2 separate regions of the Homo sapiens genome follow, and region 1 is linked to region 2. The links come from fine-mapping of genetic effects on gene expression. A gene starts in region 2. The other region holds a variant in brackets. All regions are shown on one strand. Distances are from middle to middle.

Region 1 (4,393 bases), 170 kb before region 2:
ACCTCTCCCCATTCCAACAGAAGACTGGAGGATTTTATTTTTTTTCTCCCTGCGGAAAACACAGAACAGGATGTGTGGACCCAGGGACACCAGAAGCAATTGAGGTAAAAGAAAGAGAGGAAGTAAATATGTATATACTAGATGCTAAGACACCTGTTCCTGCCAGATGTCCCAGAAGGCTGACAGCCAGGCCTTTCTCCTCCAAGCAAGAAACTGGAAGCATCTCCTATAGGGAGTCTGACCAGCTCAATAGCTTGCTGGTCAACAAGCTCTGCTCAAGTGCTTAAGTTTCCAGTCAGGGATTTTTTTTTTTTTTTTTTTTTTTTTAAGACAGAGTCTTGCTCTGTTGCCCAGGCTGGAGTACAATGGTGCAATAACAGCTCACTGCAGCCTCAACCACCCAGGCTCAAGCCATCTGAGCCTCTGAGTAGCTGGGACTACAGGTGTGTCACTGCACTTGGCTAATTTTAATTTTTTTTGTAGGGATGGGGTCTCACTAGTATTGCCCAGGCTGGTCTCGAACTCCTGGGCTCCAACAGTCCTCCTACCTCGGCCTCCAAATATGCTGGGATTATAGGTGTGAACCACCACACCTGGCCTCTAATCAGTTTTCTAGTCTCCCACTCAAGCCTTAGTTGAGCAGACAAATGAAGATTTCCAAAAATCTGAGGAAAACCTCCAGTATAGAACATGTAGACTACAAAGAGAAAAAGGCAGCCTGGATGAAAACCGAGACTAAAAAGGGAGAAGAAACAAAATTCAGGGCAAAACAAAAAACATAATCCTAATATCTTCAGGAAAAAAGAGAAATTACAATCATGAAAAAAGGAAAGATTGCTAAAAAATAAAATCTCAGCGAACAAAAAAAGAATTCTTATAAAACATGGTAATGGAAATTAAAAACTCAGTGGAAGGATTAGGAGATGAAGTTGAGGAAATCTCTCAGAAACTAGGACAGAAACATAAATAGATGGGACTGAAGACAGAAAAGTAGAGAAAATTGGAAGACAAATCCAGGATATTCTGTATGCATAAAAGGAATTACAAAAAGGAAAAAGAAAATAGAGAGGAGGAAATAAGAAAATAGTTTAGAAAATTTCCCCAAACTCAAAACATGAGTTTGCAGGTTGAAAAGGTCCCCTGAGTGCTTAGCATGCTGGCTGAAAATAGACCTGCACCAAGGCCTAGCATCATGAAATACTGAGACTCTGAGAGAAAATCAAAGAGTTTACAGGTTTCTGCAATAATAATAATAATAATAGGAAGAAAGAAAGAAAGGAAGGAAGAAAGGAAGGAAGGAAGGAAGGCAGGCAGGCAGGCAGGCAGACAGGCAGACAGGCAGGCAAAGAAAGCAAGCCATTTACAGAAGATCAGAAATCAGAACAGCACTGGATTTCTCAATGGTAATTGGAAACTAGAAGACAATGGAGCCAAGCCTTCACCATGTTGAAAAAAAAAATCCAAAATATTTGCAATCTAGAATTCTATACTAGTTAATCTATCAATCAAGTGTTAGGGTTAGAATAAAGACTTAAGACATGCAAGATCTCAAATATTTTGCCTGCAATGAATATTTTTCATACTGGAGGATTTTCTTCTGGAAAATGTGTTCCACCAAAATGAGGGAGTAAACCAAGAAAGAGGAAGAAGCAAAGAGGAAGATGTAGGAGATGACAAACAACGGAACTGATACAGACAAGAGGTTACTAGAATCCCCAGAATGATGGAGCAGAGAGGCCCCAAAGTAACATTTGTACATCAGGTCCTAGAGGGCAACCAGTTCAGTCCAGGCTGGTCAGAAGTGTCTGGCGGAAACTTCTGCAAGACAATAAAAGGAACAGAACCTCATGCACTTAAATGGTTTGAGAAGAAATGAAGACACTGGTGGAAAGCTTAGGGTTCTATTAAGGAAAAATACACAGAAAACTAAGCAAACCGAAGAACAAGGCAGTCATTTATTACAATAAAAACAAAAAGTCACACAGGAAAGGAAACTGAAACATAGTATATGACACTATTCACAAAGCCATAATAAAACACTCAATATCGATCGGACTACAGTCAAGATGTAACTATACAGGGAAACTGGAAGGGTGTAGGAGGAGGGGGTGGGAACAGTACACATACGTGGTATGTGTCGGGTGGAGAAAAGACAGCTAAATCTTCGTCTTCTATAGTGGGCAGTTATTAGCTAATGCCTA[C/T]ACCCAATAGATCAAGCAATAACAATATAAGCATGTTATTTAGAAAAACCAAAGTAATTGCCAAAGGAATCAGCTCAAAGAGTTGAAGGTGATTGCACATGAAGACGTAGGGGGAGGTGGACTACGGCTTGCTCTTTTTCTTAACACATGTTACACGACTATTTGTTAAACTCTGGGCATAGAGTTTTGTTACAAAAATAATTTATAAATTTTAAAATCAATCAATACCTTTTTTAATAAATAAAAGGGCTGGATGACATGATGGCCAAAGTTCCCTCTCATCTCCAAAGCTCCGTGATTCTTTCAGGATGAGTTTTACCACTTAGGTTGGAAAGGCAGGAGGGTGAACAGGGAAAAGGCGAAGGCTCGACCGGTTCCCTAAATGAGCTTTGACCTGGCCTTCGAATACCTGGCCTCTCTCCTGTCACAACTCAGTGACCACACAGAAAGCAGCAGGTGAGGGTGGTTGGAATTAGGAGGACACCAACTGAAATGCACTCATACATAAATAAAAGACAAAAAATCTTCTCCCAGACAAAGTGCTTAGTCTGAACCATTCTTCCAGTGTGATGAGAAGCAATGAAAGAAAAGACAGAGAAACTCTACCATTATTTTTTTCCCCATGTAGCCTTCAGGATGAAATTTGCATTATAGCCAAATCCTTCATTTTGAAAACAAATCTGGTCATTTTTAAGTTATTTGTGACCTTCCACACACTAATTTTTAATAGGGCTGGCTGGAAAAATAATGAGCTCCATTACTTCATTACACATGTCACCTTTATTACTTTATCCTTGAAAACAGGTTATTAAATGATTCCATTTTAGATTAATATTATTCTGAATGGAGAGTTTAACATTGTCTCCTAGTTCCCTCCTTACACTTACCTAATTCTCCTGCACCCATAACTATCATGAACTAAATGCAAAGGCAGGTTGTGGTAGAGGCGTTTGGTCTGTCTGTGGGGAGGCTGGGCCAGCTTGGTGCTGTGAAGTGAATGAGTCCTCAGCAGCAGGTTTATGTTAGTGGACTTCCCCAGTGAAATTCCTTCCCTCCCAAATCAACAAGTCATTTAAATTACAGGAGATAAGGCTCACTACTGTGGTGATGACTCCACAGGTAACAGAAGGATTAAACAGAGGATGTCGGGACCAACTTTCTACTTGCCTTGGAAGAAATTGTTTGTTACTCTTCCTGTATGTTTGAAGCATATCAGAGAAACAAAAATGAATCTTGGGATTCTTGCAGACCCCCCAGCTAGAGGACCTCTGGGTGGAGGAGACATGGCCAGAACTGGTAACATGAACCTGGAAGTTCACCTGTTACAGATCCCAGGCCCACACAGGGAACACTACTTTGTACACAACACAAGAGCTAGGCTCAGAAGGCAAATGGAAATACAGTGGTTGGGCCAAAGGGAAACGTCTCGAAGAGAGGCCATGGCAGGGAAGGCAGCTGAATGGGTATGGACAAGCTCCTGGGAAGGGTGCTGCCCTGTGTGAGGCTGCTGGCCAGGGGCTCTCTAGGGTGAGACGAAATTTGCATAAGGCCAGCTTCACCCAAGAGTGCAACTGTCACGTGGACAAAGCAAACAGCAGAGTGAAATGGTCAGGGTGGAGAGGGGGACTCTCAAGGCTCAGAAGGACCAAACTGACCTTTAAGCAAAGAGGGGGAGTCAGTGGAGGCCAAGGAATCTGAAAGAGAATTACCCTGCTTGACTACAGAACCAAGGATCTCTGTAGACTCAGGGAGGTCACGAATAGCTGCTGGGCAGAAATGTATGTTGGCTTCAGGTCAGAGGAACCACACTGGGAAGCAGGTTTGGGGCTGGCTGAAGCATTTCCCAGAGGTGTTGCTAACCTAAAATACCTTTGTTAAATGAAGTTTAGCCTAAAGCTGCCTCCTTACATATTTAAGTTTGGCCTAAAGGTTTTTCTGTACATCGATAACTATACAACAAGCGGAAGTGTAAACCAACCATAGTTTACATTTGTGCCAACCACTGAGTCTTGGCCAATCAGATGTAGCCAACTGTTCGGACCGTGTTCAAATAAGGCAAACGCCGAGCTCTGACCAAGCCAGTAGTTTCTGTGCCTCACTTCGGTTTTCTGCACGCCACTTTCCTTTTGCCGTCCATAAATCTTCTTCCACCACGTGTCGGCGCTGGAGTCTCTCTGAATCTGCTATATGAT
Region 2 (4,393 bases):
CGACTATTCTAACTTTAGGAAAACCTAAGTTAAATAATGATTTACCTATGTGACTCTCCACTAATTTTCTCTTGCAAATCATCACCCCTTAATTAACTGACATCCCCAAGGCAGTCAACTCAAGCTGTAGCTTTAACCACAGAGGTTAAACAATTCACAGTCCTGTTGTTGCTGTCAGAAACCCAAGTTACACTGTACCTTTGTCTAATCAATGGTGCCCTAGTTTGGTGGGAGATGGAGAGGAAGGGACCTGTTGGCAAGGAAACAGCTGCTTCCTTCCTGAACAAGGGAAAACCAGTAAGGTGACAGATGGGCAGAGCAGAAAAGTAGCCAAAAATTGCTGTGGCTCCTGTTTGGCAATAATTTCTGGAACTGAGGCACAACTGAATATTTTAAAGTATATCAACAATTGAGAGAGTATTGTTTACCTGAGTGCGCCAAAGTTCAACAAGCCTTCCCACACGTTTCCCACATTTGAAAAACTTTTAAGTTTGCAGTAGTACAAAGAGCTTAGCCTTAGCCTATGTATAGTGGGCAAAGACTGCAAGGCACTGTCCCATTTCACTTTAGGATTACACCCAAGCAAATGCACTTTCCGGTTAAAAAAAAAAAGGAAAAAATTTTATTTTCTCTATAGTAGTTATAGTTGTATGACTGACTAGAATTACTATTAAAATCTCATTAAAAATGTTTTTCTTAAAAGTTTACTTTTATATACTTAATTTGAAAAGATTTGTTCAAACTTTTATAATTTGTTCTTTAATCATTCCCCCTCCCATCCACTTCAGTACCCAGAAAACTAAATATCCAAGAATTCCTGGGTAAAACAGACAACCACTAGATAGATATAACTAACGTATTTTTTTAAGCTGTATAGTTCTTCATCAAATGGAAATCGGCAACCACTGAAAATAACATTAAAAATTAGTGTGGGCATGAAGTATGGAATTTTAAACATCAGTTTACTATGCTGATTAAGTCAACATTTATATTTTCATCAGAACTTAATAATCCCATAAATAAATAGAGCTCTCAGTTATTTAAAAAAATCAAGGGATAACATATGTATTTAGACATATTAGCAGCGTAAAGATGTATGCTTCAACACACTTATTGGGGAAACGTCTGAAAATATTACTACACTGAATTCAAGGGTATCCAAAGGAACCTGACATAGAAGTTCTCTAGAATAACATCATTTCAGGGAATTTCAAAAAAGAAAAGGGGTCAAATAGGAAATAGCCTCAAATTAATTGACAAAGTTCAGTGTTTGCCCCAACTAGATTATTCTCTCTCTCCACTGCAAAAAGAAAGTCTCAGGATGAGTGAATCACTTAGACGAAAGTTCATCTAGTGGAATAAATGGAGAAGCCGCTTGGGCAGGTGACACAGGAGAGTCGGTGGTAGTGCTGACTTTCGCTGGTGAGTTACAAGAAGATCCGGCACTGCTGCTGTTTCCATCAAGGGTATCCGAAGATACACACACACCAGGATCTGACAGCTGTGCAACGTCAGAAGAAAGCATGTTGGTGATGCCCTGGAAAAATCTCTTTGGCTGATATTCAGTTTCCATTTCACATTTTCTTTTCAATGGTCCAAGAACACTTGGTCTAATGCAATTGATGGGGCTCTGGCTTCTCCGGGTGGTAAATCGGGTCGTTGGGCTGGGAATAGGGCTTGGAGGCAATCCGTTGCTACTTACAAAACTTTGCAAGGATGGCGAAAAACACTGCTTCCCAATTCCCCGAGTGGGTGACGGTGCTGGTGACACAGGAATGAAATCGATGCGCTTGGGGGAGGCGGATTTCTCCACGTCGTTGTCACTCAGGCTGAAACTTTCCTCCCAGGAGTGGCTTATCTGCATTGCGGTCTGCACCTCCCGTTCGTGGACCGTCTCTCGGTTGATCAAGTCCATGCCCTCTTCTTGTTTGATCTGGTGCAAGCGGCTGCTGTGCATGCGGACAGGGGAGGCCGGCAGCAGCAGGCCGTGGCGGCTCGGGAACGTTGTGCTGTTCCGCCTGGCGCTCGGCGCCTCGGCCTGGAACACCGGCGAAGTGTCACTGAGGCCGTGGATCAGGGGGGCGCTGTTAGACCTCCTGAGGCCCCCGCCGCCGCCGCTGCCACCGCCCTCCGCCGGGCTCCCGCCCGTACCCGGAGGCAGCTCCAGGTCTAGCTCCATCTTCTCCTGAGCCATGTCGGGGGCAGGGAGGCGGGGGAGGTGCTCAGTCAGGGACCTAGGATTCCCATTCCCCGCAGTCCAGGGCCGCCGCCGCTGCCGCCGCCACCGAGAATCTGTCAGCGGGCTGGCCCCTCTGCGCATGCGTAGCCCTTCGCGCAGGCGCTCGCGATGTCCGTACTCGCGGCGCCTGCTTAATGCGTAATATGTGCGCGGCAGTGGTAGGGGAGGGGCGAGGAGTGGTCGGGCCGCTAGTCCGTATATTCCTTCGGCAAATAGCTATTGAGCGCAAGCTCGCGTTGACGCATGTCAATAAGATTGTCATATTCTGGATTGCATACTCATAAAACAAAGCCCTGAAAGAGAGGCCCATGGTGATGTGGGGCTGTATGACGTGGAGTGGCGCTTGGCCTAATCAGGGAGGGCTTCCTCGAGGAAGGAACAATCTCCTGAAATCTGAAGAAGTGGGCGAAATGGGTGCGATGTAGAACTTTGCAGGAAGCGGGAAGCAACGGCTACCCAGCCAGTTGGCAGGCGGGAACCAGGAGGGGAGGAGAAAGTGTGGCCTGGAGTGGAGAGTGAGGGCTGGCCTGACGTGAGGTGGTGGACCAGACCACATTCTGGTCTTTATCTTGAGAACAATGAAAACTTAAAGGGTTTTCAAGCATGGGTGTAACAGCAACTGAAAAGCTCACTGGCCTGCAGTCTGGAGAATACATATTGGGAGATTAAAACCTTACAGAAAAAAGGCCAGAGAGGATGGTCATTTGCACTAAGGTGACAGTGTGGCAGTGGAGATGGAGAGAAAAGTAAATCTGAGAACTATTTAGGTTAGGGGAAGAAGCCAAAACAGAGGATGGTATTGCTATTGATTTACAGTCATAGTTCCAGCACAAGCATATGTGTGAAGTATGAAGGATTAAACCAGTAGGTCCTCACATTTTAAAAATGAAACCACAATTCTTGGCTCATGTAATTAATATAAAACCTTGATATCTCATTAAAAGTGAGTTTATTTGTTCATTTATTCAGTCAGTCAAGGTTTTTTTTTTTCAGCATACTTACTATGTGCCAAACACTGCTAGGAAATGGGCCCTAGTATGAACTTTTAATTCTTACTGAGGGGAAAATAGAGAAACGCAGGCTATTTTCAGATAGTGGTAAGCCTTAGGAAAAGTAAGATGGTGTGATGGAGCACTACTGATAGAAGTCAGGGGACAATTAGAGTTGAGATCTAAATGACAAGAAGCAGTAAGTCACGTGGACATCTGGGGAATGAGTATTCCAAGCAGAGAGAATAGCAAGTGCTAAGGCCGGAGGCAGCCATGAGTTTGATGAGTTAGCAGAAAAAGAAAAAAGGGCAGTGCCGCTGAAGCATAAGAGCGGGAGTGTTAGGAGAGGGTAAGAGTTGGATCTCATTCTGAATATGATGAAACGCCACTGGAGGGTTTTAAGCAGGGGACTGATATTATCTGGTTTATGTTTTAAATATCACTTAGGCTCTGTGGAAAACAGGCTGAAAGAAGACCAGAGTGGAGGCAGAAGGATGAATTCAGGACCTATGGCAACAGTACAGATAAGATTCTTGGACTAGGGTTGTAGCAGTGTCAATGGGGAGAAGCAGAGAGACTGAGGATATGTGTTGAGTTAGAACAAATAGGATTTGCAGATGGATTAAATTTAGATTGTGAAAGAAATAGATTATTCGAAGGGGACTCATAGCTTTTTTTATTTAAACTGGTGAGATGGTAGTATTATTTACTGAGAGAGGAAAATAGCACATTTAGAGTTGTAGAAATTAAGAGATCTGAAGCAGAAGAACACAAGGTGGAAAGAACCAACATTTTCTAAGTGCCTACTCCCTGCTAGGCACTTTAAACACTCCATAATCCCACTTAATCCTCACTGCATAGATATTGTTATACTCATTTTACGAAGGAACGATTGAGGTTCAAAAATTGCAAAAGGCACTACAGCCAGTACACGGAAGAACAAAGATCTGAACCAATTTGAATCAAGGACTCATTTCAAAAACCTGTATTGTTTTTTCTGAATTTCACATGGATTAAAGAGAGAATTTCGCATGAATTAGAGAAGGATGGCTAATTCTGAGACGAAACAAAGGTCTAAAACCAAAGTTGGGAAAGGCAGAAGGAGATGGATTTGGGAGACAAGGCAACAACAGAACCTAATAGCATGCTGTGCAGAGGATGAACA

Evidence for each region. PIP is the estimated chance that this variant, and not a neighbour inherited with it, causes the effect. A credible set is the group of variants that fine-mapping cannot tell apart.
Region 1: its variant is the best candidate, but not a certain one, in a credible set for the expression of PABIR1 in tibial artery (GTEx, PIP 0.53).

Annotation. Positions count from the first base shown.
Region 1 is chr9:68,949,740-68,954,132 of GRCh38, reverse strand. All of the region lies in intron 14 of PIP5K1B (phosphatidylinositol-4-phosphate 5-kinase type 1 beta), which reads right to left. LOC101927069 (a long non-coding RNA gene) reads left to right here. Exons shown (of 3, transcript NR_110647.1): 3 at 1-1,045. Among named protein-coding and RNA genes, the nearest start is that of PRKACG, 62 kb to the left of the region's middle. RefSeq lists enhancers at 3,051-3,670, 3,671-4,290. The variant C/T (reference allele first, on the strand shown) is at 2,202.
Region 2 is chr9:68,777,966-68,782,358 of GRCh38, reverse strand. It overlaps PABIR1 (PP2A Aalpha (PPP2R1A) and B55A (PPP2R2A) interacting phosphatase regulator 1), which reads right to left and starts at 2,294. Exons shown (of 1, transcript NM_138333.5): 1 at 1-2,294. The coding sequence starts at 2,194. The coding sequence ends at 1,331. The region is part of intron 2 of PIP5K1B (phosphatidylinositol-4-phosphate 5-kinase type 1 beta); the gene reads right to left. RefSeq lists silencers at 2,034-2,273, 2,391-2,805 and an enhancer at 1,558-2,386.